Linked DNA regions of Homo sapiens. The protein of the gene in region 3 interacts with the protein of the main gene of each other region in a biochemical or structural test. Each region holds a gene or a part of one and is shown on either strand. Other genes may lie near its edges.

Region 1 (10,958 bases), on a different chromosome or scaffold from region 3:
CACCAAGAGTTAAGAGCTTTAGCTAACACCTTATAAAGTTATTAACTAGAAACACAACAATCTAGAAACTGCCCAGGTCAGGAGGTTTTAAAACTATGAAACTAGGCAGCTATTTGCAACCTCTCTAGAAAAGGCAAACTTTTTGCCTATAAAGATCTTTTCATGCAGAGGAGCTTTTAGTCAGTATATTGTAAAACAGGAACTAGGCAGTTTACAATTAGTGGTTTGCTTGCCAAAGTCAATTTCTTTCAGCCCAAATGGAAAGTCATAAAAGGTGGGGGGAGTATAAAACTGCAAGGCTAACTTCTCCTCCTCCTCCTCACAAGTTTTACATGTAATTCGACATGTGATCTAAAAGGGGAAACACTGAAACTGAAAATCCTCTGCTGGTTGAATGAAAAATCCTTAAGGAAACCTCAAATTTTCTACAGGAAGTGATTAAAAGTTTCCTTTATAAAAACTTATTTTGTGAGTTGCATGGCTCCGTTCACATTTTGTCGCAGGGCAAGATTGGAGGCTTTAATATCAGTTTCTCGTTGAAATAATCTGGGTCTTCAAGTTCTCACTAATACAATATCCACCTAGTGGACCCTGGTCGCTGTCACATGCCACAGCGAGTAAACTAAACTAATGCACACGCCTCTTCCAGTTTCCCGTCTGAAGATCCGAAACCTCCACTCTGAAATTAAACACCGGGATCTGCTGTTTTACAAACCTCTTCCCACCCTTACCTTTATTCTTCCCCCTCTCTCTGAACGCCCCAGTAAGGTGTCTCATTTAATTATCTGTCCAAATTCCAGACCACGGTATTGTATGCTCAGTTTTCACCGGACGCTGCTAATGCTTCGGTTCTAAGGAAAACCAGCCCGCTAAACACAGATCTTTGGCAACCCTTAACAGTCCAAAGCTAGGGGTCTTGCTCCTAAATCTGCACTGGTTGGGCCCAAGTTCCTTCTCTGCTTCAAGTAAGAACCTTGCTTTGCAGAACCACTTCTCTGCTCTTTCTCCTCCTCCCTCCAAGCTCACTTTATTTTCCACATAAAGCTCACCAGTCTTCTGGGGTGATGACTACATATCCCTAGTTTGACAAATTCCATATATAGATTTAAAGTATAAATAAAACAGATTAAAAGCCCATTTTGACCCTATTAGCTTCAGACCTTGTACAGAAAAGGAAGACTGAATACAAGTAAAATGCTGCTTAAATGTTTATGAGAGCCTATTTTCAATGACCTAAAAACAGCCTAATAAAATTTTGACAGGTAACTGGGAAAGTTCTAACTACCTTTTTTTTTTAATTGGAGCCACATTTTAAGCAAGGAGAATGGACTTTTGTACCACTGTATTAAAACTATATTTCTGTCGTTCATAAAGTTTCTTCCTGTGGCATGCAAAAGGCCAGAAAGGGGACTGGTATTTTGAAACTGTGGAACAATGCCCTTCTGTTTCTGTCCCCTTCTCGTTACTGTATGTAGTGATTAAACAAAAATGTCTGCTTTAGTCAAGATGGCTACAGGAGAGACTGCTGGCTTCTTTTAAAGCTTTTGAAGTCCGCAGCCGTCAGAAATCTCTGATCCCCTAATTATATCATTATCAGGCACATAGTTTCGGTATCTGTGACTTCATGTCAGCCTCAGTCCCTCCCTGTTCTGCCCGCCTTTGATAGGGCCAGGAGGCTCCCCTCTGCAAGCCACAAGGGCTGTTATTTAGGGTTAATTACACCCTTCCTTCCAAAATAAATAAATACTGTAGCACATCATCCTCGCTGGGCTAGCTTATGCTTTAACCTCATGCCTGCTACATAGCAATTAAAGAGAAGTAGGGGGCTGCAAAGACTAAACTGCTTCCTACTTAAAAAAATTATCTGTTCACAGAACAGTAGGTAGATTTCACAGCAGGGAGGTGAGGAGAACCTTGAAATTCGGAGACAGTTCGGGTTATTTCTTTCTAAAAGGTGAAAGCCTGCAGAGGAAAGAAGAAACTGACCCGCTGCCTTTTTTTTTTTTTTGGTCCTGTTTGTAAAATATGAGGTGAGTGGCAGTGAGACGCTGACAGAGCCTACTCCTCCCGGCTGCTGAAAAGCAACACAACACACACTTCTGCACACCTCGGACACCTAAACTCTCAGGGAGACCCACACACTCGCTCGCACACAGAGAGATGTACGCAGAGACACACTCACACAGAGACTCAGATGCACATTCAGAGATACAAAGACACTTAGAGACAGACACAGAAATGCATTCAGAAAGACACACTCAAGATCAGAGATACAGAGACTCACACATTCAGAGACACAAAGACTCAGAAAGAGACACAGAAATGCATTCAGAGATACATTCAAAGAGACACAGAGATACGCTGAGTGATACAGAGGTTCAGACACACTTTCAGAAACACAACGACACTCAGAGACACAAAAATGCATTTAGGGATACTGAGACTCAGAGACACACTCACAGAAATACACCCTGAGGCACTCACACAGACACGCTGAGGGCACGCGGCAGCTACAGGCCAGGATCTGCGATTCCTCCCGGCCGCCCGAGCCCCCAGGGTGCGGAAGCGGCGGCGTCGAGGCCGAGACTCCGGCCCCGCTCCCCGCTGGGCTGCAAACGCGCCGCTCCCCGCAGGCAGAGCCAGGAGGACCCTCTGATCAGCGCCTGCCCTTAGATCGGAGTCCGCATCCACGCGCCAGGCCACCGCCGCGACTTCTAAGAACACAGCAACTTGTCGCGACCTGCGGCTCCGGCGCAGGAGGGAGCCTCGCCTGCCGCTAACAAAGCCTCTGCAGCCGGCTCCAAAGCCCCGCGGCGAGGACGGGACCCCGGGCCCCGTGCGCCCCCGGCACCCACCTTTGGTGAGCAGCACGGCCATGGCGCAGAGCTCCAGCTGCAGCCAGATGAAGATGTAGCTGGAGTGGCGATCCATTGACGCCCCGCACGGCCGCGGCGCCCCCGCCGGCTTCCGGAGCCCCGGCTCGGCGGCAGCCTACGACCCCCGGAGCGCGCAGGGCATGGGCCCTGCCCGGAGCGGCGGGCGCCGTCAGCGGCGGGGCTGGGTTTCGGGCCGCTGCCGGAGCATGGAGCGCGGCTACAGGGCGCGCCCAGGAGCCCAGAAAAGTTTCCCGGTCCCCCGTCGGCGGCCACTGGCTCCCTTGCCCCGCTCGACTCTAGGGACGCACGCTAGCCCCGGGTCGGGAGTGGGCTCCCGGCCTTCAGTCCCCGCTAGCGGCCGTTCTCAGCGAAGAGAGTAGGGTCTCCACAGCACGCAAGGGTATCCGCCGCAGCTCCCGCCCGCGCCAGCCCAGGTCTCTCCGGCTCCGCGCCGTAAATAGCGCCCCGCGCCGGGAGCCGGCCTGCACCGCCCCGCCTCGCCCCGCCCCACGGCGTCCGATTGGCCGCCGGGCTCCTGTCAATCCGCCCCGCAGCGGGGGGCGGGCCCAGACGCGAGCGCTGGGGGACCTGCCCGGCGGCTCCGAGCGGCGCCGGCGTCTGGGGCGCCCGGCTGGGGCGCCCGGCTGGTGCGCTGCCGTCTCCCGCGCTCCCCCTTGCGGAGGCCTGCGCGTCAGTGACCTTCGCGAGGCGCCGGGGGAGCCCAGCCCCGGGACCGGCTCGGGAACCCGCCTCCGAGACCCTGACGGCTCAGCCTCGGGTGGTCAGCGTTCCCCAGCGCGGGGCTTCTTTTGGGTGCCCCCCGAAACACGCAGGGGGTCCGTGTGGTCGTCCTCCCCGGCCGCACTGCGTTTTCTGGAACCCCCAGGGGCGAGTGACAATGCCCCGGCCTGTGCAGGTGGCGGAGGAGGGTTCGGGTGGGAGCCCGGGGGAGGCGGCCCAGCGCTGGGGTCTGCATTCAGCCTTCGCCCCCCACCCCCTCAGCGTGTCCGCCTCGAGCTGCCCGCCATGGGATCAATAAAGCCCAGACAGACTGACTGTTGATCCGTTAGGAGCCGCTAGGTTCTCCCGGGTACGCGGGACGAGTAGCGGGCTAGAGACACTTAACGAAAATTAGCAAATCCAAAAGCACCCGGCGCCAACGAGACGACACTGGCCGAGACTGACACTCAATTAACCACCCCCCAAACAATGGCTGGCAAACACGCCGGCTGACCCTGATCAATATCAGCCCCGCAGTGATCTCCTCCTTGAGATGCTAATTCATTTATTAGGGATCGCGGGGCTGCCCTTCCCAAGGTACTCAAGGTGGTCTTGCTGTAGTTTTGTTTCCCCCTCCGCTTTGGAAGGAATTAAGGTTAAAACTCATTATCTGAGGGAATGTTCTTTTATCCTCTCCCTCCAAAACCTGAGATGAACAAAAGTCGACCATTTGCAAAATTCTTCTTGAGAATCTGCCAGAGCTTCCCTACCGGATATGTCAAAAGGGGGTGGGGGGTGGGGAAGGAAAGAAAGAGAAGCACATTTCATGCTAAGGTGAGAATTATAAAGACAAATCCTTTAGGACTAGAGTGCAGACATGAGCTTTGAGACTAAGAAAAATGTACATATGTCTTGAGGACTGAAAGTCAAGGCGAACATATCTCAAACGCCTAACCTTTTAAAGTTGTTGAAAGTCTGCAGAGCTGCAGGATGTAGTTAATGAAATTGTCTTTGAAAAATAATGTTTATGTGCAGAAAAATAAAATAATTTCATAAACTGATGCTCAGACCATTACTTCTCTAGATCAAAATTGCATCTAAAAGGAGAGAAGGAGAAATCCAGTAGAAGTTTTAAAAGAAAATTAAACTGGTTAGGGCACCAGGTAAACAGCAGGTTTCTCAGAAAAGTTTCTCAAGGGGCGTGCTGACAAGGCAGTCCTGGGGCCGAGTTTGATTAGAACTTCCTGGCTACTAGAACCTTGACAAGTTAACAATTGTAAGGGTTTTATGCAGACAAGACTTTTTTTTTTTTTTTTTTTTTTTTTGAGACGAGTCTGGCACTGTCGCCCAGGCTGGAGTACAGTGGCGCGATCTCGGCTCACTGCAACCTTCCGCCTCCCGGGTTCAAGCCATTCTCCTGCCTCAGCCTCCTGAGTAGCTGGGATTACAGGCACCTGTCTCCACGCCTGGCTAATTTCTGTATTTTTATAGAGACGAGGTTTCGCCATGTTGGTCAGGCTGCTCTCGAACTTCCGACCTCGTGATCCGCCCGCCTCGGCCTCCCAAAGTGCTGGGATTTACAGGCGTGAGCCACCGCGCCCAGAGGACAATACTTTTTATGTAATGATTACACTCTCTTTTAGAGTCAATTATTAGCTAAAAGGAAACTTTCAGGGTATGTTAGTTCAACCTGGCCTCCCACCGTAGGCGAGGCTTGCAATGTCTGGGGGTATAAAGATGTCAGAAACTAGATAGTAAATCTCAAAACAATGGAGCTGGACAATAATGGAGATTTATGTGCATGATGTTACAATGCCTAAAAGAAAGAGGTTAACTAGTCTAGGAAGGTAAAGAGAGCCGGTAAAGTCTAGAAGCAATGACATTAAGGATTGGAAGAAGACCATTACAAGCACAGAGGACCACAGGACTTAGGCATGAAATATGATTGTGTAGGTGAGTAGGAGTGGTAAGCAGCGAACAGGTAGTTGGGATGACAAGCAAGTCTTTGTGATTGCAGCATAAAATGTGAAGAAGTGAACAGAGACGTATCAGAAATGAACTATACTTCCCTTTGATACAGATAAATATTTAATGGAAGAGGTCTGGGGAATGTGTTGGTGAAAGTTGCATTCTAGTAGACACTTTCTGAGTGTCTCCCAGCCCAAGTCAGAGAATGTCCCTTTTCCCGGAGTGGGCGTTGGCAACCTGATTAGGAGACTCTGATCTCCTAATCTCTGGCCATAGCTAGTCACATGACCCAGGTTAGGTCAGTTAGATTCTCTCTTCTGTGTCTTTGAGCAGACATGCTGCTCAGTCCCTTGAGGTCATTTCACGGGAGACATAAAAATTTTGCTTTGGGGCAGCTGTAGTCCACCTGTCTGCAGAGGAAGAAAAATAATGAAGATATGCAAAGTGGCAAATACATAAATCCAAATGGATTTCCAGGCACTCAGCGTCACTTCTTGTCCTTAGGTTAATTCAGTAACCTTAATAAAGTCCCCTTTTTACTTAAGGTTCTTTTCCTTGCAACCCAAAGAAACCAAACTAAGATATTTGTATTTTATTGAATTAATGTTGACTTTGAGCACTCCAGGTTGTATATATTTTTTTGTTCCAAGTCCAATTCTGAATAAGAACTTGGGATCCATTTTTTAGACAATGATTTCAACTATTTTGTTTTTATTATTAATGGGCAAACTTTCTAAATGACCAGAAATTAAAGAGAAACAAGTCCGCACTTTATCTAATGGTTCTGGGGAAGACATGGACTTTTCAACTAAATGAATCAGAGTGTTTGAATCAATGTAGAATATCAAAATCAGTTTAGGGATAATGTGTCAATCATAAGGCCATATCAATAGTTGAGAGAATAGGCAACAATTTTAATTCAATTTAACATTCTTAAGGAAAATTGCTTCTCTAGAGAATTTTACTTATGCTTTGCACATAATTCAGTTATTACTTTCCTACATGTAGGTTGATAAGTAGAGGGAAAAAAAATAGTACAATCTACTGTCCTTTTGAAGTTTAAAGCAAGAAATGAAATCAACGACCAAAATTCTTTTTACATCTACAAAGGGATTCCGAAAATACCTAGGAACAAGCTCTCTATACCCAAGAACAGAAAACTGATTCTAGACCTAACTGAAACCGTTAAACAGTAGAATAGTTTTTTATTACCTTCAAACAGCATTCAAGATATAATTTATCCATGGGAGATATATATGTATATATATAGGCGCGAGCCACCATGCCCGACTAATTTTTTAATTTTTTTGTAGAGATGGTGGTCTCCCTATGTTACTGAGGCTGGTCTCAGAATTCCTGGGCTCAAGCAATCCTCCTGCCTGAGCCTCCAAAAGTGCTGGGATTATAGGTGTGAGCCACCATGCTGGCCGTATAGATGTTTTAAAGATTTTAAATGATGTCTTTGAAATTATAGGCTAAACATGTAACTAAATGGCACTAAATTGTGAATGGGAGAGTAGAGAGTTACTTGCTTTTTTTTGCTTTTTTAGAGACGAAGGCCTCCCTCTGTTACTCAGGCTGGAGTACAGCGCTGCAATCATAGCTCACTGTAGCCTCGAACCACTGGCCCCAGCCTCCCAAGTAGCTAAGGTGCTCCCCACTGCATGGGGCTAATTTCTATACTTTTTGTTGAGACAGAGTCTCCTTATGTTGCCCAGGCTGGTCCCAAACTTCTAGCCTCGAGTGACCCTCCCACCTTAGCCTCCCAAGTAGCTGGGATTACAGGTGTGAGCTTGACTATCTTATCAGAGAGTTATTTGTGTTTAAGGGATTCATAGCAGAATAGGAGCTTATTTGTTAGGTGACCAGATAGAACAAAGGAAGATTATACAATCTGAGAAAAGCGCATCAGAAGTTCTTCCCTTAATACCAAGGATAAGAACAAGAATTCTGTTCATTGATGACCTCACTTAGGGTGTACTCTCTTCATAACCTGTGTCCATAAATCTCGTTAAAATGCATTAAATATTTGAAGATATGCACGTTTGGCTGGCATTTTATTTCATGGCTTGAACTCACACATCAAATATAATGTGTGTCTTGATACTTTGTAAATGATAAAACAAATACTATATAGTTAGTTATTTTCTCAGGAATTATTATGAAATAAAAACAATGACAGTGGCCAGAACATAATAGCAAATAAATAAATAAATAAATAAAAATAAAACATTTATAGTACATCGTTAGTCAACTTGCTTAATTAAAAGGAAGAGAGACACACTAAAGATTAATTTAGGAGGGGTTTGTGGTATGGACAAAATAGGCTTATGGTATGGTTACTACTAACTGGTCATTGACAAGCACCGCTTATCAGCTCGGGGAGCCAACCTTCCTGGAGCCAGAAGCCAGAGACTTGGGCCTCTTTTTCTCAGGGTTGTCTTTGCTTCTCACCTCTTTGCCAGTGGGCTGTCATCCTCTCCTTATTTGTAGTTTTTACTCTCATAATTTCTGCTTTTATTTTTTTTTTGTCCAAGCATGAGTCCCCTATACAGAGAGATACTACCCAAGAGATGGTTTCACCTTCTATCACTACTGCAAACTATCACAGTCATTTGTTCAGCTTACGGAGACACCATCCCCAAATACTCAGTCTGTGATCTCTTGGGCTTGGATAGGGTTCTGGCTAATATAAAACCTGGGTACTGCTCTCAGCAAGGGTGTGAGCCAGAAAGAACACACAGAAAGAGATATGGGCAGGCTGGCACCATAAAGCATGTCATATTATATAAAGTTAATTCACCTATAAAGCAAAATAAAGTAGGCCAGGCTCAGAGGCTCACACCTGTAATTCTAGCACTTTGGGAGGCTGAGGTGGGAGGATCACATGAGTTCAGGAGTTTGAGACCAGCAAGCCCGGTAGCAGATGCCTGTAGTCTCAGCTACTTGGGAGGCTAAAGTAGGAGGATTACTGGAGCCCAGGCGTTCCAGGCTGCAGTGAACTAAGATCACACCACCACACTTCAGCCTGGGCAACAGAGAGAGACCATCTCAAAAGAAAAGAAATATATTAGTGAGTGAATTTTGACCTTAGCCAAAAGGCTGAGAAGTGATTAGTGAGTGGAATTAAGATCATTCCTCCAAGCCAGGCACGGTGGTTCATGCCTGTAATCCCAGCACTTTGAGAAGCTGAGGCAGATGGATAACTTGAGGTCAGGAGTTTGAGAACAACCTGGCCAATATGGTGAAACCCCATCTCTACTAAAAATATAAAAATTAGCCGAGCATCGTGGCACATGCCTGTAATCCCAGCTACTGGGGAGGCTGAAGCAGGAGAATCTCCAGGAGGCGGAGGTTACTGTGAGCCAAGATTGCGCCACTGCACTCCAGCCTGGACAACAGAGTGAGACTCTGTCTCAAAAAAAAAAAAAATCATTCCTTCAAATTATTACTTCTGTGTGACTTTATCACTTGAGTGTTTGCTATCATCTAAAATAACTTAATGTAGCCATTTGAAGACAGCCCATTTTAAACAGACTGAAGACTCAGAACCTTGCAGAGTACAAGACTTTCCAGAGTCCAGGACCATTTTGAACTCGTGGATTATTTTTAATATACAACAATCTTGAACATCTTGTCTTCTTAGTGGGGCCATGGCAACGAGCAGAGCTTTTTATTAGTTTCTTGAGAAAGGTGAGTATTTGGAGTGAATAGTCAACCTGGCATTTTCCACATATAGTGGCGGGGGGAAGAGCAGGCAAGATGCCCATGATGCAATGTCTATGAGCAATGGCATTGCTTGCCAGTCTGTATGGAATACATGAGCAAAATCCATCAATATTACAGCCAAAGGGTCAAAGTAGTCACTTGTTTCCTTGGAGGTCCATCCACTTGGCTCCACCCCATACCACTTAGTTGTTCCTCATTAAATGACAGGAGTATATAAAAAGAGTTCCCTGGGCCTCGCAAGGTGGTTCACACCTATAATCCCAGCACTTTGGGAGGCCAAGGAGGGTGGATCACTTGAATCCAGGAGCTCAAGACCACCCTAGGCAACGCGGTAAAACCCCATCTCTACTAAAAATACAAAAATTAGCTGGGTGTGGTGGTGCATGCCTGTAATCCCAGCTACTCAGGAGGCTGAGGCTGGAGAATCCCTTGAGCCAGAGATGGGGAGGCTGCAGCAAGCCGAGATCGCACCACTGCACTCCAGCCTGGGTAACAGAGCAAGGAAAAAGTAACACTAAAGTAAGAAACTGAAGTCCTGCATTTGTATCCACACTCCATTACTCAATGTTTTGTTTGTGTGTTTTTTGAGACGGCCTGGCTCTGTCACCCAGGCTGGAGTGCACTGGCACAATCTCAGCTCACTGCAGCCTCCACCACCATGGCTCAAGTGATCCCCTCACCTCAGACTCCCCAGTAGCTAGGACTACAGGTGCATGCCACCGCACCCTGCTAATTTTTAAATATTTTGTAGAGACAGGGTCTCGCCATGTTGCCCAAGCTGGTTGTTTATTTTATTATTATTATTATTATTATTATTATTTTTGAGATAGAGTCTTGCTCCATTGCCCAGGCTGAAGTGCAGTGGAGCGAGCTCACTGCAGCCTCCACCTCCCAGGTTCAAGCAATTCTCGTGCCTCACCCTCCTGAGTGGCTAGGATTACAGATGTTTGCCACCATGCCTGGATAACTTTTGTATTTTTGATAGAGGCAGGGTTTCACCGTTTTGGCCAGGCTGGTCTCGAACTCCTGGCCTCAAGTGATTCGCCTGCCTCAGCCTCCCAAAGTGCTGGGATCACAGGCATGAACCTCCACGCCCAGTATACTCAATGAGTTTTTATGAGCCAATCAATTGGCCCCTTGGTACTCAGTTTTCTTGCCCATAAAATGAGAACAAGAGTGTTTGGTAGCCTGCCTGCTCCAGAGATTGCTACTAGTACAACTTGAGGTCTTCGTGTAAGTTTTGTTAACTGTGAATCTCTATAGAAATGGTGACCAATTTTCCTTAGAAATCGGTCTAAGGAAAAAATTTGTAATATCTGAATGTATTTATGATGGCTTCAGGACTTCCCAGGTGGTTTCAGGATTTTCTCCTCCCTGGAGCTGAAGATTTGAAGTGCAAATAATGTTACTGCCAAGTCAGACTGCAGCCTGGGCAGGGTGGTGGTATCTCTCTAAAAACGCGGAATCTTGCCAACAAACGTTTGCTCCCATGACTGGTGATAGTCCAAGAATCAGCTGAGACAAATTGGTCGCCTAACTTATCATTACGCAAGAAACTTAGCTGCTCTCATGGAACCATAACTCGTGCCTCTAGTCTGCTGGAAAACACAACTCTTCCACCCTGCAACGTGACACCTTGAGATAACCCATCTCCTATCCAATGGC
Region 2 (10,273 bases), on a different chromosome or scaffold from region 3:
TAAGAGAGCCACCTAGTACCTCTGAATCCCCCATTTTTGCCTCTGACCCATTACAGGGCAGATTAATGGGCACCAGAAACATATGTCAAATAGCAATCGCTGCTAATGGACAGGAAATCCCCACATTGTCAGGGCAGTTGAATTTAGCAACCACTCAGTTCCAGCCTAACTCTAAAATTAGAAAGTCACCTATTTCCTTCTCTTTTCCTAAGCAACTGTATGTTTAATGACACAGCAACAATTACTATGAAAGCAGGTATCCAAACTAAAATTTTTTGATTAATCAAATATTTTCCCTCACTTCCATTTTTCCCACTTGGTGGCATATAGAAACATATCCTCTTTTCCATGACCGTGGACCTCCTTACAACTGTCTGCTGTACATGTATCCCATGCACAAATCTGGGAACAATCTTCAAGAAGTTCATCTTAGAACTTGCAACTCCCTGGGAGGATCTCCCTGCCTGGATTTCTATAGTTAACGGAAATCCAGCCATACTTATCACTCGAGGCCCTGAGATGTTTACGGTACTATAAATTTTAGGCACAGTTTCAAGTTCTCTGCAGCAGAAGGCAGGCTTTTCTGTGCATTGCGTACTGTGGATTCTGTTCTTAATTTAACACACTCTGCACACTGTGATTATGATAGTGGTAAATTCACTGAGGCAAGGGCCAAGCAGGGCTGCAGATGGATAGGAAAGGTTCTCTGGCATCTTTCTATAAACTTACGAGGATGCTGGCCATGATGATGGTGGCGGTGGTAAGGGGAGTTCCTCTGACTCCGACCTCATGTCTTTGGCAGGAGTTGAAATGAATAATAAAGCTGGGTTTATGATTAGATAGAATACCAGAGCAGAGAGAGCAGTTAGAGGGAGAAGCTGTCTTATTTTAGGAAGCATGATGACTTATTTTTTCAAAATCTGAATTCGATATTCCCCTTTGCTAAGAATTGGTGTGGGTTTTGTTGTTGTTGTTTGTTTCTTAACAAAATAAAAGAGAAGAAGATTCCCATAAGCAGAGCTTAATCATTTAAATCTAAAAAGGCAATCAGCAGTTGATTTTAGGGTGGCAGGGTCCTGCCAAGGCCTTAGGAGAAGGCCGAGGGAAACCTCCCAAGCCTTGGATAACTAGCCTGGAGGGTGTGCAGGTTTCCTCCAGCTTGGGCACATCTGCCTTGCCCCATAGAGAATGTTAACAAGATACCTGCTGTTTTCCCTTCTGCCTCTATGCAGGACAGCTTCTGAAATCCTAAACTGCACAGGGTGTCACTCCAAAAACAGACAGATAGTAGCTGCTAAATTAGAGAACCCAGAGGGCACAAGGTTGGGTTTTGTTTTTCTAGGAAAGAGTGTAAAACTGGAGTGTCTGACTAGTGCCCCGGATAGGGAGGCTTAATAGGTTTGGGGTAACTCATCCCCATGAGCTCTGCTCTACTCTCATCCACACCTGCCAGAAGGGGTCAGGGTGAAGCCGATGGACAGCAGTGCTGACCCGCATGCAGTGGACTTTCCATGAATAACACCCAAGGCTGACTACAGATGTTTAGGTGGGGGTGCCGAGGGAGGGTTACTTGGCTGACTAGAATTAGGGACAGCCGTGTGCAAATTGCTTTTTTAGGGCCAGAGAGGCTGAGGCTGCTGGCTTCCAGTCACACAGCCTACAGGACAGCCCCTGATTTCACAAGAGCAGGTTTCTGATGCATGATCTAGCCCCACCCCTTCTTCACAGGCAGCTGTACTTGGAAGCAAATGATTTAGTGTTCCTGAGAGAGGATTGTACAAAGAGAGTACTCATTAGAGGGGGCTCAATCTGTCAGGTGCTGTTATATTAGGATCAGAGAGTCATCATAAAATGACTTTCATGCTGGTCTTGGCTGATAATTAACTGCATGGCATCGCCTGCGTATTGTAGAGAGGCAAGGGTGCTGATTTATGCATCCGTTTAATTATCTGAATTGAAAGACTCTGTTCCCTGTATTTGCATCCACTGCCTGCGTGCTTTCTCTCTCCCCCATATTTCTGACATTTGGATTTTCCCCCTACTAATTGACATGCCTGTCGCCTCCTTCTCCTGGTGTCCATTTCTGGAACTGCTATTTGTATATTGCATGATATTTTATCAGGAAAAAATATAAAACAGATCTAATTTCATGAAAATGCTGTTGCCATAATGCTCAGGAGAACAGGGGGAAGAGAGAGATTCAAGTCTTCCTAATGTCTACCTTATATGCAGGTACATTTTACAAGTTCTATTGTATTCTGACTTATTAAGCAGTGCATATTTCTTTCTTTTACATTAGCTTTCATTGCAGAAGGGTGTGGGGAGATGAGACTGCTGGAAACTGACGTGGGATTGATGTTTATCAGGGCTGTAGGCTTCAGAAATATATTAAGCCTCGGAATGTCCTAGGTATGAAAAAGATAATAAATAACAGGTCAATTTATTATATTCCCTTTATCTCTATATTACCTGAGAGAGATTGCTATACTGCAGTGACACTTTCAAGATGCCCCAATCCTCCAATCTCCATGCATAACAATTTGAAAAAGGGAAGGTTGACTAAGGCTGGGATGTTCAGGATCAATTTCTAATCAGTTTCAGGTTTTACTCAAATATCTCATGCTGTAAACTCTTGAAATGAATGTCTTCCCATAGTGCGCCGTGAGCAGGTTCTGCATTAGTTTGTACAGGTGCGACCTAGGTTCCTGCACTATTACCTAGCTAACCAGATATAGCTGGTTGCTTTGCGAACCTTTCATTACCTGCTCTCTAATAATATTCTTTTCATCCTCTGTGCTATTTTTTCCCTCCCGAGGCTTGTGAGCAAGGCTGTATCACAGCCTGCTCTGCCTGAGTAATTCACTAAGAAAGTCCCACGCAAACCCATGTGGGTGATAATATTTCATCACTTAAACCTCTATGAGCTTGGTGGACACATACCAAAGAGAGAGAAAAAGAGGTGCAGAAAAATGGGCAAAGAGAAATTTTGTACCTCACAGGGAATACCTCTGAAATGCTGCTGGGTGGGAAGGATTGGACAGAGGAGAGACTGTGTAAGCTGGAAGGAAAGATAGCTGGAAGGGTGTTTGCAGCACATTTTCCTTTGCTTTCAGAATTTTAAAAATGTTTTGAATAAGTCAATCATGAAGGCATGGCAAGGGTTAAGCAACTAAGCCCCTTGTTGTTCCCTCCCCCTACACTAAGATGCAAAATGCTGGACTCATCCAAAAGTCCAGCATCTCAGATTTGTGGGTCTATGAACATTTTCAGTTAAATAAGCAACACACACATGCAGTGTTTCGATTTGGTTTTGTTTTCCTCACCAGGGTCCTGCTTAAAATATGTTGCTCTTTTACATATGGGCAATAGTTATGTCTCTAATGTGAATGTGGAAAGCCTCGTTGTTTATAGAACACATTTAAACTTACCATGGGATGGGGGCTGGGGGAAGCCTCCCTGTAAAAAGCGTCTGTTCCTTTAATTTTCCATTCTTCATCAAGATTTCACTGTGCCTAGATATGGTATAGTCAATGGTAAGGGTATACACAACTACCATTTACAGGGTGCATTCTCTGAAGCCCTAACTTTGCATTTGGACTGCTTCCAGGGGTTTCTGCAGAAAGCAGCAAGTGAGGTCTTAAGGTTATTCCTCCTTTGACCTACAGTAGAGGATCTTTCCTGCAGTAGAACTATAGGTTTGGCCATAAATTATCTTGATTAATTTTTTAGCTTTAATTTCCCTCCTTAGGGTCCATTATTGATTTATAAATGCCCTGGCACAAACGTCCATCATCCATGCCTCTTCCATTAAAGTGGTGATGAAAAAGGTTAAATATTTTGGGAGAAAGGGGTTTTAGGTTCCTACAAGTAGCAAAAATTCTTAAGGTTTAACCCACAAAATTTCAGAGACTTCTTCCAAAGTTCCTGAGAACTTTGGCACTTCTCATTTTGGACTTAGGAACCAGTCGAGTACGAAGAATTCAGAACTACAGCTAGGAGATCACGTGCAAGTATTTTTTAGCAGAAGAGGGGCCAAGACAAATATGTGTTTTCAAGAAAAGTGCCTGGGAAGGTATTACTGCAGTTCTTTAAATATTACAACGGACTTTCCACCCTGGCATCTCCACCACCCCCAGCCCAGTCCATCCACTGCACAGGCCGCAGACCACTATTAATCTCTTTTCCCATCTTTCCCACCATTTCTCTCCACACCCTCAGTTCGGAAACAAACGCATCCTCAGAAGCCGAACACCATGTTCCCACAAGGCATTACAGAAAGAACCTTTTTCCTCCCTGTTTGAAGTCACTTGTCATTTGTCGCTGGTGGAAACTGTTGATAAGGCAGGAAAACTAGGCAACAAAATCAGGGGAGATGGAAGATGTTTTTGTTACGACCCGGGAGACCGTATTAGGGAGAGACTTGTGAGCAAATCAGTATCGCTGATGATTCATAGTCACATTTCTCCCTGCTCCGCTTTGTTTGCTTTTGAAATTTATCACTCGTCTGCCTTCCATAGAGCTCCGGAATGTTCACATGTATCACTAGAATTTCCATTTCCTTTCCTTCTGTCTCATTTAATGTATTACAGGTAGTCATGCTTCTCCCATCTCATAAATTCCTAACTTTTTCTGCAGGATGAGAGGGAGCAGGCGGTAACTGATAATCACCAAGATTAGGGCGCTACAGACAGGGGCTTCCAGTACGCGCAACTGCCTTTCCCTGGATACACTGACAAGGAGCAAAAGTCTTTGGAACGCGCCCTCTTGTGGCCGCTCTTCCCCATTATTCACGGAAGAGAGCGTGTAACCCCTAAAGGCATCCCTAAAGGAGGGGTGATTCACAGAAAAGTTCGGAAGGTGGGATTGGAATGGTGGGAGTCAGCTTCATTTTGAGATGGCTTTCTTGGGGTGGGGAAAATGGTCATCCAAGCAAAGCTTCTTGGATCCCTGTCTGGGCAGTGCAAACTTCTAACTCAAATCTTCCATACATAGTATCCTCCAAGGGGTAGACTTATGTGTTGCGCTTAACAACACCTAGGCTACGTGAGCACATCCATTTCTTGGTGTGTCATTTGTCTTTCTTTCCCTATTCTTTCTACAACAAGTGCTATCAATTGCTAAGCTAATTACCAGAACCCACATCCAGGTTTGACAGCATATGGAGACTTAGAGGTACATTATTATTATGCATTGATTGACCACCTACTGTCATGAGTCAAAATAAAATAAAAATAAGCTGCATCAGCTGAAAAGGCCACTGAATTTAGCTTCATGACATTTATAGTGATAGCTTGGCTTTACCCATCCCTTCTATCTTTCCTTGTGAAGAACTCTGTAGGCCTTAAGGTAAAACATTGAGGGTTTTGTGCCAGCCATGCAAAGAACACACTAACCTTGGTGAGAAATCTTGGGTGATGTGACATATATAAAAATAAAATAATTTTTGTTTGTTGGGATACATTTCAGAGAGCCTTAGAGTGATTCCCTGCTGTTTAGTCAATAACAACTCGCATCAACTTTACAAAAATTGAGCACTTTCTACCTAAACAGGATGGGACAAACTCAGTTAAAAGAGTCCTCAGCACTTCAGCTTTTGGAGGCTCTCTACTTCTGTAGCCAGGCCTTGGCTTTATCCAACAATCAAGGAGAGAAAAGGCAAAAATTAAACGTAGCCTCAAATTGAAGAATCTTGAGGTTGAAAGGGGCTGCTATGGGTCTGCATCTGTGGCATGCTCATGGGTGACAATGTCTGGATTCTATGCTGCACAAAATGGTTATAAGGGAAAGAAAAATGCATTCCTTTTTCTATTCTCCAAAAACTCTTGACATTCCACATAGTTGGAATGTTATTAAAGTTGAATTATTCCAAAAGCAACAAGACATAGGTCTTTTCTATTCATGTTCATATATTTGCTACAATCATTTGGATGATAAATGTCTTTTCTGGACTAGCAAAATCAGCAGCAAAATGCTCACGTGGTTTTCTGCTTGAAGAGTAGACAGTCCATACAGCAATCATTAAATACATGAAATTACATTAAATCAACTTGAAGTTGATGTGTGAAATCCCTCAGAGAAAAATAAGCAATTGTAATAAGTGTTTTCTAAGAATCCAAAGTCAAGTTGTAAAGTCAACCAGGAGTTTCCCATTACAAATCTTAAACTTGACTCAATGTGAACGTCCAACGAATCGCTTTTTCAAAAGTCGCTCATTTTTTTTCAAACTAAACACCTAACTGAGAAGTAAAAAAATGACAAGATCTCATACAACTGAGAGAAGACTGTCACAGAAAGGAAGACCACACATAAGAAAGAATGTAAATGGTCAAATTTTTTCACTGCCAAATCTCTAAATGCTAAGAGAGTGATTTGCTATACAAGTCCAGTAAGTCAGAAAGAGGGGCATATTGCTAGTAACGGTAGTGCGGTTAAAAGTGGTCAAAGGCATAGGTATACTTAGTCATATGACATGGTTAAAGGCAACTGGATACGAGCTGTCATTGAATCCATCATGTGTGGAGGTTGGTATACAAAGACAGGAAGCAACCCTCTAGACCACTGAAATCTGTTTCACATGCACAGCCAAATATTGTAAATATTTTCTTTTTTACCTTTTCCCACCATGAAAAGTTGAGAAAAAAAAATGGGTGTCAACTTGAAAAGTTCCAACCTAGCTTTCTTCCTCAAAAAGCTCCAGAAGATAAAGTCCTAATGATCATGCCTTTTGGGGCTGGGTTAAGAAAGAGCTTTAGGGAAAGAAAGTAGGATCTTCCCTAAGTGAGAGAGGCTTCTGGTGAGAGAGCCAAACTGGGAAGCTTGTAGGACACCAGGGCTTCTCCTGCAAGGGGAAGCCACACAGCCAGCAGGCTATCTGCACCCCCGGAAAGATGCCCTGGTCTTTCATGGTTTTCTTGAAAACAGAACATCTGAGTCAACAGGTTTTCAGATTGGAAATTCTGAGTGTTGCCTTAATTGTTTATACTGCTGCGGCAAACTTTTAAACAAAAATGCTGGGAGTCCCTGCACATACTTTACTGGCCATATGCTCTACCAAACAAAACAATGGCATTCCTTTCAAATGGAGTTGGCAAAGGATGCAATTCTTTAGCCTGGCATTACCATGAAAGTAACACGGTATTAACACATCTGTGTGCCTGACGTGCATGGGCTTGCAGGCATGCAAAGGATCTGTGTCACTTAACTATAAAAATAGCCTGGCTCCAAGTCCATGGGCCCATACTTTTGACAGGTATTGCTATTCAGCAACAGGTTAGTGTGGTCCTGGGCCAACGATTAGAATCTATTTATTAAAGTTCTTCCTCTTAAGGATTGAGTGAGTTCAGCGTAGTATCTGAGAGTACTTTGTCAAGGTTGCGTTCCTTGGCAGAGAGCTCTTAGTAACTTTAGAAAGAACAAAACTGGTTGTTTTATTTATTTTTTTTTCTTTCAGAGAGCAAAAGTCAGTGTCCCAAAAGTAACTGCTGGTTCAATGACAACTGTCCCCCAAAGTAGCTCTTCCCTGTCTTGAATGTGGTGCCTGTGCACTTATAGACATTTTCTAAAGGTAAAAATGACTGTCACTCATAAATATGCCCTGCTTCTCCAATGTGGCCCCAGATTGGACTTTTAAAGGGGAAGGTTTGTTTTAAGAGAGTGACTTCATCTGTGCCATTCCACTCCAATCCTGGTACATTCACCCCTCTACCCTCAATAAAAACTTGGATGGGGTCCGGAAGCCTCCTCTGCTCCCCTAGCACCCGAAAATGCCGCGGCTTTCCTCCGGCTGCTCAGATCTGGTTTCACAGGCAGGGCAAGGCAGCCCCTCACAGTCTGCCTTCCAGCTCAACATTGGCCCCGAGCTTCCTCTCTGTGTGACCCGCTGGGTTTAGTAAGTGTAAGCCAGTCATCTCCAGGCAGAGCTCGACCGAGAATTCCTTTTCTGTAAAGTCCTCTCCCCCTCCCCTGCCTGCCCTCCGTCGGCTAGTCCGCTACCATCACCTAATAACTAATAACCTTCCCAGGCAGTTTCCAGCTGAAGGGAAAAGAAGTTCCTCCTGGGACTGTCAAAGAAATATATTTTACCCTCCCACCCCCCACCCCTCCCCACCCCCTGCCAATGCCAGCACCAACCTGACTCGGCAAACGTGATGATCTCCGAGGTCTGCTCCATAAGTTCATTCATTTCTGCCCTCCTTCCAATGTCATCCTCTATCTCCACATACCCGTTCTCCCCGACTTTGCCCACATGAAGCTTTCTGATCGCGTTCAGAAGCGCCGCCTTGGGTACCGGCTGGGTGACATCGGGTCTCTTCTTCAAGTGCAGCATGTTTAAAATGTGCTTCTTGACGGCCTCCACCATCTCTGGCTGAGAGTTGGGTACATCCTTTGGGAGGGCGGCCAGCGCACAGGACGGACAGTCGGGGGCCGCGCTGTGCCCCTCGGATCCTGGGGTGGGGGAACTCCTCACTATAATCCAGCAACTTGCCAACAGAAATCCTCTCAGCCAAAGCAAGGGCATCCTGGCAGCAAAAGTTGTTGTGATTGCCTTTTTAAAAGGCCCTGCTTTTCCTCCCCCCTCACGCGCAGGTTTTTTTGTGTGTGTGGATTTTTTTATTTTTTTTTTTGGTGTTTTTTTTTTCCTTCTCCTCTTCAGCAAATTCTCTGGAACAAGAACAAAAAGTTTTCTGTGAAGTTTTGTTTGCAGGTTCCTCTCTGAATGCAGTCAGTGCTGTAGGTTTGTGGCTGTCAGGGAGGAGAGTTCTGACTGTCTCCGAGTAAGAGAGAAGGAAGGAGGGAGGGAGGGAGGGAGACAGGGAGGGAGGGAGAGACAGGGTGGCGGGGAGACAGACAGAGACAGAGAGAGAGGATGGGAGGGAGACAGAGACAGAGAGAGAGGAGAGAGGGGGAGAGAAGAGAGAGGGAAAGAAGGGGGAGAGAGAGGGAGAGAGGGAGGGAAGGGAGGGGGAGAGGGAGAGAGGGAAAGGAAGAGAGAGAGAGAGAGAGAGAGAGAGAGAGAGAGAGAAAGGATTGGCCCTAAGTAAGTGAGTGAATGGAGAGGGAGGGAGTTTGCTGTGAGTAGGGCTGTGATTAGGGAGGGAGGGACAGCCCGTTTTCTGACAGGCTGCTCTCCTTCTGCTCTTAGCTTCCTCACAGACACCTCTCTTCAAATATCACCATTTTCGGGGGTTCTACTTTCTCTTCTAAAATAAATTATCCTAATTTTGTTCACTATTTTTTTTTCTTTCTCTGCCCAGTCTCCTGGTTTCACCTTCTTCCTTTTTTGGAGGGGAGAAAAGAAACCCCAAACAAACACAGTGTCTCAATCAATAGGGATGAATTGATTGAAAAAGTGTTCCCACCGCCCCTCCACCCAGCCAAGCCACAGCCCTAGGTGGTAGAACGCCCACCTGGCCACGTGGTGGGGCAGAGGGTGCAGGGAGGTCCAGTGGACAGGTAGTGGAGGTCAGGGAAGAGGGACTCAGGGGTAACAGAGGATTGTTCTGGCCTGATGGGATCCAGGGGAGATGGTCCTTTCCCCCAATTCATTCATATTTAAATGTTCAGGTCATCAACACTGGCAGGCAATCTGAGGAGAGCGCAATGGAACTTTTGTTTGGGGTCATATAATACACTCCACTCTTCCCAACTGTGAAATGCAGCAGGGCACTGAAGGACCAGAGGGCAGGCAGCCTGTCACAAGCCCAAGTTCCAGAAGCGCTTTCTCCCCGTCGCGTTCAGCTGCCCCCTTCTGCCGGGGACCCACTCACTCTCACACATTACAGCCTACCACCACTCGCCGGACTTCACAGATAAAATGCAAAATTCTCTTGGCCTTTCCCACATCCTTTTATAAAAAGAGTGCACTCGTATGACTTGAATAACTGGTCCTATGGGAAAAGACTCTCTAAAATATATTGGCAAATTATTTTTCTCTGTCATGTGGTAGTTTTTTCAGCTTGCCCCAAGCCTGTCCCGACCAGTGCATTCATAGACAGCCTCCTTGACTGCTTCTTTTTCCCTCAAAGGAACAGTGCAGATGAAATCATCATGGATTTTAGTGTGCACAGAAAAAGAAAAATGTGAATTTTTTAACAATGCCTTTCTAAGGCTTAAAAAAAATTCTTCCCCCTCCCCTCTTTTTCATTTTCTGTCTTATTGCTTTTATCTTGCAGAAGAATCTTTAAGGGGTCCATCTGTTAAAGCGTTCCTTCCCTCTCGGTTTCTTTCCCACACATAAGCCCTCTTGGTTTCTGAAGATACACTCAGCTTATAT
Region 3 (10,323 bases):
TTTTTGCTTAGCACACCATTTCTCCATAACAGAGGAGAGAGAGCAGACATGGACAGAAATGGTGCCTCTGAAGCCAAAGCTCAAGTTAAACCTGCATGAGAGTGAAAAACTGAGAACAGAAACTCAGAGCAGGTATCTGAACCTGGCCATGAGGCAGTGCCTGCAGAGTGAGAGAAATGTAAGTTGGACTTAAAAGGTTCCCGCATTCCCAGTCCAAGTGGAACTGATGGGCTGTGGCTGCCTGCAGTTATGTCCAGCATCAGAAGCACTGGTGAGAAAGGACTCTAGGATTCCCTTTTTATGAATACAGAGAGGAAAATGAGATTAAGACCCTCTTACACCAACTCCTACAACAACAGCTAACACAAGAACTGAAGACAAACAGGCGAGATCCCAGAATTAATGTTCACTGCTACTCTGAGCAAAAATTGAACAGTAAACAATAGAGATTTCAAAATTATAAAGAGCCACTTCAGTATTCTAATTTAACCTTCAAAAATTAAGATGACCTAAAGCACCACGAACTGATAATTCCATTCCACCTCAACACCCTGTGCTCCTCAGCTATTATGAGAACAGACTGCAACCCAATTCAACTCATGTTCCAAAATGCAACAAGCAGCTTCAACAGGACATGCTGGAAGAAGCAGCACGTCTCATCGTTTACTGATTCATATTTTGGTAGCAAGGTTACAATTAGCTCACCGGTGGAGAATAAACCTATTTATAACACAGCAGTCCACCTGAAAGACATAATCATCTAAAAAGGTTCTTAGAGGAAAATAAGTGCAGGTTCTTCCTGTACTGATTGCAGATTCCCAAGGTCCTTTTGGATAAAGTCCTCAGTCTAACCTTCCTGTGTTCACAGTCACCATTCTGGCCACTTCTCAGCCTCCATGTTCTTATGTAACATTTACATAGTGCCATAAACATACCCAGAGTTGCGTAAGAATTAAAACGTTGCCAAACCAATAAAGCCTAAAGCAGGTCACTCCCTCCAGACTGTCTTTGATTAGCACAGGTATGCTGCCTAGTCGACGATGTAAGAGCCTGCCAGAGACAGAAATTAACTTGAGGAAATCTGAAAGGGGTCTACAAAAAAGCACAAAAAGAAAACCACACTGTGACATGCTGTACGTCTATCAATCACAGAGTATGTTTTTCTGCTCCTTAAGATAAAAAAGTAACCCAGCATTGCTTATTCACTGAAGTCAGAAACTGTGTCTAAAAATACCTCCCCGCCAACTGGCTATCAGTAAGTCAGTCTCACAAATGTCCCAATAAGAGTGACACAAAATATTTCCTTATTTTTACAGAGGGAAAACTGAGGCAGTCACAGAAAGGTTAAGTTACTTGTTCAAGGACAACTTGTAAGGCAGCTAAGTTCTAGGGCTGAAAACCAGCCTCCTCCCTCCATCTGGCTTTAACCTTTAACCAGAGTAGCCATTTTAATATGTTTTATCACATCTGTTCCAGGAGCTGTTTAAACAAAACTAATCAGAGGTCTCTACAAGACTGCACTTCCACTGTACTTAAAATCCATGTCCACTCAACAAAATTACAAGGCTTGGCTTGAAATTAGATTTTTAGTCCGCTCACAAAATTTCAAAATGTTCCTATGAGAATGTCAAATATCTCTCTTGTTGCTTTTGTCTTGAGAAATGAATGTCATGTTCTCCTGCTACTAACTCAATTTTACATTTTTAAATGTGAAAATTCCAAAGCCAGGCCTTAAAACATGTACACCTATCAAACGGATGCTATTTCTAACTGAAACTCATTCTCCTTATCACTGGCCTTTTACTAAGTCCTAGTTAATTCATTAATTAATAGAAACACCTATCCCTTACTGCCCCTCACATCAAGTCCAAGTATCAGGCATCAGAGCTGTCTGGCTCTGTCACTCCTCCAGCCCACGTAGGGGAGCACTATATAGGAAATGCAGGGGAGGGGAAAAAAATCAACTTCTTGTTATCCCACAGCCTCTATTTTCCCAGAACTGACGTTTTACTTTAAGCCCTTTGCAGCAGTGGTCTCCATAGCATACACTATTGGCAACTAGACGTGTCCTGGAAAAAACTGTAGTGTCTGGCCAAGAAGTTTAAAGGCCCTGGAGAATGTTTGCTGGACACACAACCTAATTTCCAATTTACCAAAAAAAGAAACGAACTCCCTATTTTACTCACCCACCTTAACCCCCACAAACATCCATTTTAGGAAGGTTACAAAAAAATGAACTCTGCCCCATTCAGAACCACTTGGATTATCAAACATTCTTAACTAGGCTCACAACCAGAAAAACCCCACAAACACTACATCAAATCAGCAGGGAAATGACTGTTAAAAATCCTGGATATATTAGGGGCAGGATAAAAATTCCTATATGAGGATTTAAAGATTTATACATACACACATAAAATGACAAACCTAGAGGTTCAATCTCCCTTTTTTTTTTTTTTTACTACCCAGTAGAGAACATTATGTTACACATTCCAAAAACATGGCCCTTAATAAGGCCCGACGAACATCCTTATTCATGCAAATCATTATCTCACCACAAATGTCAAGCTCTGTTCATACACCTTCACCATGTTTCTCAAACCCCACAGCACAGATACCTAAGCCACAGAGCAGTGAGGCCGAAGAACACACACGAGGTGCTTAGGAGAAGCATTAGCCCGTGAACAAAGACCCCGCTGCACAGGCTCCACCACTGGGAACAAATATCAAAGCCGGAGATAATGAACTTGTTTTTGAGATTCCAAAGTGGCATGGTGTCTTTTCTTGACTGTCTGGTTTATTAAAGACGACTGAACCCACCTGAGAATCATTATTTTTAGTGTAAGAGAAGAGAGCCACAGAACACACTTTATCTCCCATTGCTGGAAGGTTAGGGGCTGCTGAGAAGTCAAAGCATCAGGCTTTGTACGTCAGGAGCGAATACAATCCTGATCATCTCTCCCAGATCCATCTGTGGGTCAATAATCGCTTCAATATAACTGCCAAATATAACCTTCATCTGCTACCCCAAGGCCAAAACACATTCGCCAAGACTCTCTTAAATGAAATATTTTAGGGTTTCATCTGCTCTTCTCAGCCCCCAAAGCCTCAAAAACAACACAGCCAGCGAAGTGTCCCGCAAAAAGGTACCCGCTTCTACAGAGAGGAGAGTGGGGGGGTGGTATAAGGCGAGCCGCAGACTGTGGGGATTGGGAGGTAAGGGGTGTGTGAGGGTGGGCGGGCTGGGAAGAGGCATCGTGTAGGAAGGTAAATAAGTACTGACCAAGGGCCGGGAATACAGTCCAGTGGTGGGATCTTTAAATAATCTTGGGGGTTTGGAGACAGGTTCCAGGATTTCACCTGAAAGGCATCCACAAAGTGATTAACTGAATGGGCCCCCCGGGGTAGGGTGGGGGAGGCGAGGAGGAAAGCAAATACACCTAGATTCACATCAACCCTTGGGGAACTCGGTTCCATAGGGTTAGGGATTCCAAAGCCAGGCTCCAAAAAGGTTTAGGGGCCTGTTCGTCCCACTTCCTCCAAATAGCCTCCACGGGGCATGAGTGCCGGAGGGCGGAGGGGGGATTGCCCCACTGAACTCAAGGGATTGAGTGAAGGGGAAATGTGACTCCCTTTCCCAGAACATTAGGGAGGCAGTGGAGGGAGGGGAAGAAACACGCCAAGTGCAGGACCTGAAGGAAAGGTTAGAGACCCCTTCCCCTACAGTCTGAGGTGCGCGGACTCTCAACATCAGGTTCCCTCGGAGAGGCTAAGACCCCACCGCCCGAACCCCACAGTCTTGGCGGGAGAAAGACGCCCCCCAGGAGCACCTGGAGGGAGGGAAGAAAGCCCCCCGCCCCTGGACACGGTGAAGGGCAGAAACCACGGACCTCCAAATCTTGGAGCTGGAGGCTCAGACTCCCCTCTCTGGAACACGAGGGCGCTGGGAGCGCGACCCCTGAGAACTGCCCGAATCCAGTTCCGCCTGGAACAGGGCTCGGGTCCCCAGGGGCCCGGCGTGAGCTCCGTCGCCGCCGGGCGGCTGCGCCTCGGAGATCGGGGAAGCTGACTGGGGGTCACCCCGACTCCTCTGCGCCCCCCACCCGGCCATATTGTGCTCGTGGGGAGGGGGCGCGCTGTAGTCCAGCGGCCGCGGCTCGAGGCCTCGCCCTTGCCGGGCCCTCTCCATCCCGGCCCCCGCCCCCCGTCCCAGGACTCACCCTGGACCCCCCGGGGCCCGGACCCGCCGCTGCCGGCGAGCAGGAGGACAACAAGGGGGAAGAAGGAGGAGGCTCCGGCCGACTCCGCCATAGTAACCACCGCCGCCGCCGCCGCCGCCGCAGCCCAGCAGCGCCCAGCGCGCGCGCGCGCGCCCCCGGCGCCTCCCCTCCTCCCGCGGCCCGGCTCCCGCCTCCCTCTCCTCCGCCCGGCGCCTGCACGTGCGCTCCCGGCGGAGCCGGCGCCGCGGCCGCCGCGCGCGCCCCCGAAGGGCGGGGCCGGGGCGCGCGCGGGCGCCCGCCTTAAAGGGGAGTGTCCCTGTTAAAGGGGTGGGCGGGGCTCACGCCTCGGCCAACTTCGCGGATCGGTGCCGAGCCCGGCGCGGAGGAGGCCGGAGCCGAACGTGCAGTCTCCTCCCTCTCCTGCACCCCACGCAGTGCAGAATTATCTTATCAGAGTCGATCCCCCGCCCCCGTCGAATATTCTACGAATCCCGTGCGTGTTCCAGTTCCTCCATCCCTGCGCCTAGCCTCAAGCCCCCAGCGCGTCCCCTGGGATCATCGCCGCGGTCTCCTAACTGGTTTCCCTGCCTCGCCTCGCCCCCTGCCATCCTCTGGACGCGGCAGCCTGTGTGATGGAATCGCGGCACGCGCCTTTTCAGAACATAGCAAAGCTCTTTATTGATGACAGTATGGGTGAGGGTGCCGTGTGAGGCACTCTGATTGGGCTGGTAGGTAGAACCCTTTTGGTAAACAATTGGCATTATGCATCAAATGCCTTAAAATCTTCATATCCATTTACCCAGTATTGTCCCCTGTCCTCAAGAAATAATAAGAGGACAGATGTTTATGAAAAATGTTAACTGTATATTTATCATTGTAAAAAAGGTAGAAACTAAGTAGACAATAATAGAAAATGTTAAATTATGGCCCATCCATATGATGGAACATTATTTAGTAATTTAAAATCCTGTTTACAAAAACTATTGACATGAGAAAATGCTTACAAGATAATGTTAAATTAAAAAAGCAAAATGCAACACTGTTTACAGTATTATTCAAATTGTACTGATAATATGTGTTTATAGGAAAAAAAGACTGGAAGGATATTTACCCAATAGTAACAGTAGTTATTGCCATAATTTTTTTACTTTTAACATTTCAATAATTTCTAAATATTTTTCAAATAAATGTTACTTTCAAATCTAGAAGAAATGCTTAAGAAAGTAAACAAATCACTCCGTATCTTTCTGAAAAGAGGTCAGTTTCTTTAGCTTGAGAAAGAACTTGATATAAAGGAAAGGGCAGAATTTTTGCAGCCAGAGAATTCTGGATCTGAATTCTGCTTCCTACTAACTAGCTGTGAAAACTTGGGCAAGGTTTGAACCTCTCTAAGCACAGCTTCACCATCTGAGATCTAGGGGTGGAAAGGATGGCCAAGAGATAGGGAGAACAGTTGCTTAAATGGAATTCTCACCTTCTAAGTTTCACCAACCTGAAGAACTCCCATCGTCATATCCGGAAAAAATAAAGCTGAAGACACACTCGCCAGACACAGTGTACACACAATCACATAAAGTCATGGGGAGGCATTGTCTACAAGTTGGTCAGTGTAGCTGGATGAGTAAATAACTTATTCTCCTCTCCCTCATCTCCCCCAAATAGGCACACCCCACCCAGTCCGTCTAAGTGGTTTCCAATCCATGCTCTATCCACCAAGCTGTGGTGCACACAGTGCTAGGTTACTGTGTTAGTTTCCTACTACCAAACTGGGTAGCTTAAAATACAAATGTATTCTCTCACTGTTCTGGAGGCTAGAAATCTGAAACCATGGTGTTGGCAGGGCCATGTGCTCTCTGAAGGCTCTAGGGAAGAATCCTTCCTTGCCTCTTCTAGCTTCTGGTGGTTCCCAGGATCCTTGGTGTTGTTTGGTTTGCGGAAGCATAACCCCATGTCTTCACATGGTTATCTTCCCTCTGCATCTACATCTCTGTCCACATTCCTCTCTTCTTATAAGGATACCAGTCATTGGATTAGGGCCCACCCTAATCCAGTATGAGTGCAAATGATCTTAATTGGTTACATCTGCTGCTAAGATCCTCGTTCCAAGTAAGATTACATTCGCAGGTTCCTGGTAGACACGAATTTTGGGTGGACACTATTCAACCCAGTACAGTCACCAACCCCTGCAGTTAAGAAGGGAAAGCCAACCCCTCAGGAGCACATATCTGAAGCCAGGGGGGAGGGAGGTATCTTTCCTTATTTCTTGCTAAGTGCTGCCACTGTGGCTTCGAGGCCAGGGGTCCCAGAGGGGACCTGTGGTTGCTTCACTCCTAGACAGTAAAGTCAGCCACACAGCTAAATATACAGATCAGGGAACCAGAATGCTGGCTCCACAGACCAAATGCCACCTCCGTCAGCTCCATCAGCTCACTTGACAGCATTGAACTTTGGGCAAGATACTTTACCTCCCTAAACCTCAATTTACTCATCTTGTAAAATGGAGCTAATAATAGTTCTATGTCATACAGATATTGTTAGTATTGATAAAATATGGTAAAGCATTTAGCATAATCTCTGACACATAGGAAGTGATCTAAAAAGAATAGCTATTATCATCATTATGAGTTGACCTTCACTACAATCCTAGGAAGTGGTTGAGGCATGTCAGAGTGTGCCCCGATGAAGTGACTGAGACTTAGAGAAGGTAAGCGATTTGCCAAGGCTCACATACAATCCATCATTAAAGCCACAGCCTACTGGTCCTGTGCTTTCTTCAACACCATAGCATCTCCTGCTTTTCTAGGTACTGGTCTTCAGGACCCAGCTGAAGGTGGAAAATGAGGTGGAGCAGGGGAGGGGTTAATCATATGCCTCACACCCCATTTGTGAGAGTTTGGGGCATCTCCAAACTAGAGCTTTCCTAGGTGATGTGTCTACCTTCCTTTTAGGTCCCGCGCTACATAGAGACTGCCTAATCCCTACCTGTGCCCTTCGCTCCTTCCCACAGCCTGGCCCAAGGATGCTTCCTGCTAGTTCTCCTCACCATCCCTGAAGGCCCCGGTAAGTGTCCATTTTCGTAAGCCTTCTTTTTTTTCTTTTTCTTTTTCTTTTTTTTTCTTTTTTGAGACGGTGTCTCGCTCTGTCTCCCAGGCTGGAGTACAGTGGCATGATCTCGGCTCACTGCAACCTCCGCCTCCTGGGTTCAAGCGATTCTTCTGCCTCAGCCTCCCAAGTAGCTGGGACTACAGGCATGCGCCACCATGCCTGGCTAATTTTTGTATTTTTAGTAGAGACAGGGTTTCACCACATTGGTCAGGCTGGTCTCGAACTCCTGATCTCGTAATCTGCCTGCCTCGGCCTCCCAAAGTGTTGGGATTACAGGCGTGAGCCACCGTGCCTGGCCTTGTAAACCGTCTTAATCTTAGGGCTGGACCCACATCACAGTCTATGAACTTCTTTTCCCCTCTGCCCTGTCTCTTTGTCAGGAGAGTCCCCAGAGCTAGCAGGAGCCACTTCTCCAGGAAAAAGTCTTACTCCTTAGTCCCACTGACTAGAGTGACAACTCAGTGTGACAATTGCCACATTGGTCGCAACGCACAGAGACACCACTACCTAGGGGATCATTTGCCTTGGTGAGCAGCAGGGTCATTCATCCCAAGAAGGCAATAGTTCATCTTCACTCATCCATTCCACAAGCACTAAGCACCTACAGTACACCAGGCACAACATATAGACATGGATAAGTCATAGTCCTCGCCTTCATGGAACTTAAAATCTAATACAGAAAAGCATGAGAAAAAGAGCAACAACGGGTTATCTCTGCGAGGACACAAGCCTGTAAAGAGCCAATGAGGGCCACTCAGGGGACATGAATGATTCAGCTGTGAGGGGACAGGCTGAGGAGTTGAGAAAGTTTTCACGAAGAGACAGGCTACGCTGATTCTTGGAAGATCAGAGAGTCCCCCCAGATAGGCCTGTGTCAGGAGGGCAGGAGATGGCAGGAGACTGTTCTGCCTGGCATTTAGGAGAACCGTGAGCAGCCTAGCGGTACACCCAGAAGATGCAGGCTGAAGATGATGGACAGTGGAAACGTAATGTTGGTGAGCTAGGCAGACGTGGAAGTCTACTTGGAAATGGAGCACACTGGAGTGGGAGTCTAATAAGAGACCCTCTTCAGTACACTTGGAAGGGTTCTAAGTGTAAATTGATCATGTTTGTATTTTAGGAAAGGCTAAACTGATCATATTTGTAAACTGATCATATTGTGTTAGGAAGATCACTTTGCTGAACCAAGTGAATTTGAACTTTGTACAGAGGCTGGTTGGAGGAAGACAAGACTGGTTGTAAGGAAACCAAAGAGAAGGCAAAGCCCAGGCAAGATAGGAGGTGGACCTGACCCCAGGCAGCAGCAATGTGAAGGTGGAAAAGAGAAACAGATTCAAGAGTTCAAAGACGTAGAAATGACAAGATTGATTGGATACGGGAAATGAGGAAAGGGGATGGCCCCATATGACTCTAGGATAATCTTAGGTGACTAGCTGCCTGGTAGTTTCATTCAGCAGACTAGAATGGGCAGGTTTGGGAAAAAGAAAATTAGTTCCTTGGCTGGGCGCAGTGGCTCACGCCTGTAATCCCAGCACTTTGCGAGGCCAACGCAGGTGGATCACCTGAGGTCAGGAGTTCAAGACCAGCTGGCCAACATGGCAAAACCCCTAAAAATACAAAAATTAGCTGGGCATGGTGGTGGGCACCTATAATCCCAGCTACTTGGTAGGCTGAGGCAGGAGAATCACTTGAACCCAGGAGGCAGAGGTTGCAGTGAGCCAAGATTGTGCCACTGCACTCCAGCCTAGGCGACAGAGACTCCGTCTCCAAAAAATAAAAAAATTTTAAAAATGTAAAAACTGAGTTCCTTGTCAGGCATACTGAGTTTGAAGGTACCTGGAGCCACAGAGATGTAGATTTGGAAGTTAGCAGCATATCATTGTTGTTCAAACAGCTCAAGGGAGCAAGAGAATTCTGGAAATACAGCAATACCAGCAAAAAAGAAGACAGAAGGAACAGTGATAGAAGTAGGAAGAGAACCTGGGAAAAATAGAATAATAGAAACCACGGCAAGAGAGGCTTTCAAGAGGCCCATAGTTTGTAATGTTGACAAGAGGTCAAGTAAGATGAGGAACAAGAGTCTCTTAGGGCTTTGGTAACTTCTGATTGGTGACGTTTACCTGAGCAGGCTCAGTGGAGGATGGGGTGAAGGCCTAACTTCAGGAGGCTACAAGTGGGGGTGAAGGCTTAGAAACACTGAGTATCATCTATTATTTAAAATAACTTGGCTATGATGGGAGGGGGAAATTTGGATTTCCTTTGGAATGGTAAACCAGGTTCCTTGAGCAAATCTTCGGCTGAAAACAACGTAAAATGCTCAGTAAACTAGCAAGAAAGTGAATACTCAAGTAAAAGACTAAGAATCAAAGAGGAAAGCTAATCACCAAAGCTGGCTTTTCTGTTCAGAGCCTTTGCATACGGGTGAGCTCGGACTTTGGTTTTCACAGGCAAGCAGGATATAGGGGACAGGAGACAGAGCTCAAGCTCATCCAAAGTGGGAAGTCTAATAACAGATCCTGTGCACAAGGCTGTGACCCACAAAGGGTAATACACATCGTCTAAGGAGGGACCAGAAATAATTCACTCCTCAGGCTGGGCGCGGTGGCTCACACCTGTAATCTCAGCACTTTGGGAGGCCAAGGCAGGTGGATCACCTGAGGTCAGGAGTTCGACACCAGCCTGGCCAACATGACGAAACCCTGTCTCTACTAAAAAAAAAAAAACACAAAAATTGGCCAGGTGTGGTGGCGTGCACCTGTAATCTCAGCTGCTGGGGAGGCTGAGGCAGGAGAATCACTTGAACCTGGGAGGTGGAAGTTGCAGTGAGCCGAAATCACGCCATTGCACTCCAGCCTGGGCAACAAGAGCAAAACTCTGCCTCGAAAAAAAAAGAAAAGAAAAATTAAAAAGAAATAATTCACTCCTCCAGGAGACTACAAGGAAAACTGCCTGACTTAAACCTTGGCTCTTGAGATCGCACCATTGCACTCCAGCCTGG

Evidence for each region.
Region 1: the proteins of ACVR1B (region 3) and BAMBI form a complex in vitro, tested with the Homo sapiens proteins (one study listed by BioGRID).
Region 2: the proteins of ACVR1B (region 3) and INHBA form a complex in vitro, tested with the Homo sapiens proteins (one study listed by BioGRID).

What each region holds. Positions count from the first base shown.
Region 1 is NC_000010.11:28,669,871-28,680,828, reverse strand, and holds the start of BAMBI (BMP and activin membrane-bound inhibitor homolog precursor), read right to left. Parts: upstream 3,309-10,958; 5' UTR 2,932-3,308; coding exon 2,856-2,931; intron 1-2,855. UniProt on the Homo sapiens protein: Negatively regulates TGF-beta signaling.
Region 2 is NC_000007.14:41,691,857-41,702,129, forward strand, and holds part of INHBA (inhibin beta A chain preproprotein), read right to left. Parts: intron 8,662-10,273; 5' UTR 8,519-8,661; coding exon 8,131-8,518; intron 2,233-8,130; exon of another isoform or gene 2,063-2,232; intron 1-2,062. UniProt on the Homo sapiens protein: Inhibins/activins are involved in regulating a number of diverse functions such as hypothalamic and pituitary hormone secretion, gonadal hormone secretion, germ cell development and maturation, erythroid differentiation, insulin secretion, nerve cell survival, embryonic axial development or bone growth, depending on their subunit composition.
Region 3 is NC_000012.12:51,945,732-51,956,054, reverse strand, and holds the start of ACVR1B (activin receptor type-1B isoform a precursor), read right to left. Parts: upstream 4,357-10,323; 5' UTR 4,312-4,356; coding exon 4,221-4,311; intron 3,361-4,220; exon of another isoform or gene 3,284-3,360; intron 2,672-3,283; exon of another isoform or gene 2,556-2,671; intron 1-2,555. UniProt on the Homo sapiens protein: Transmembrane serine/threonine kinase activin type-1 receptor forming an activin receptor complex with activin receptor type-2 (ACVR2A or ACVR2B).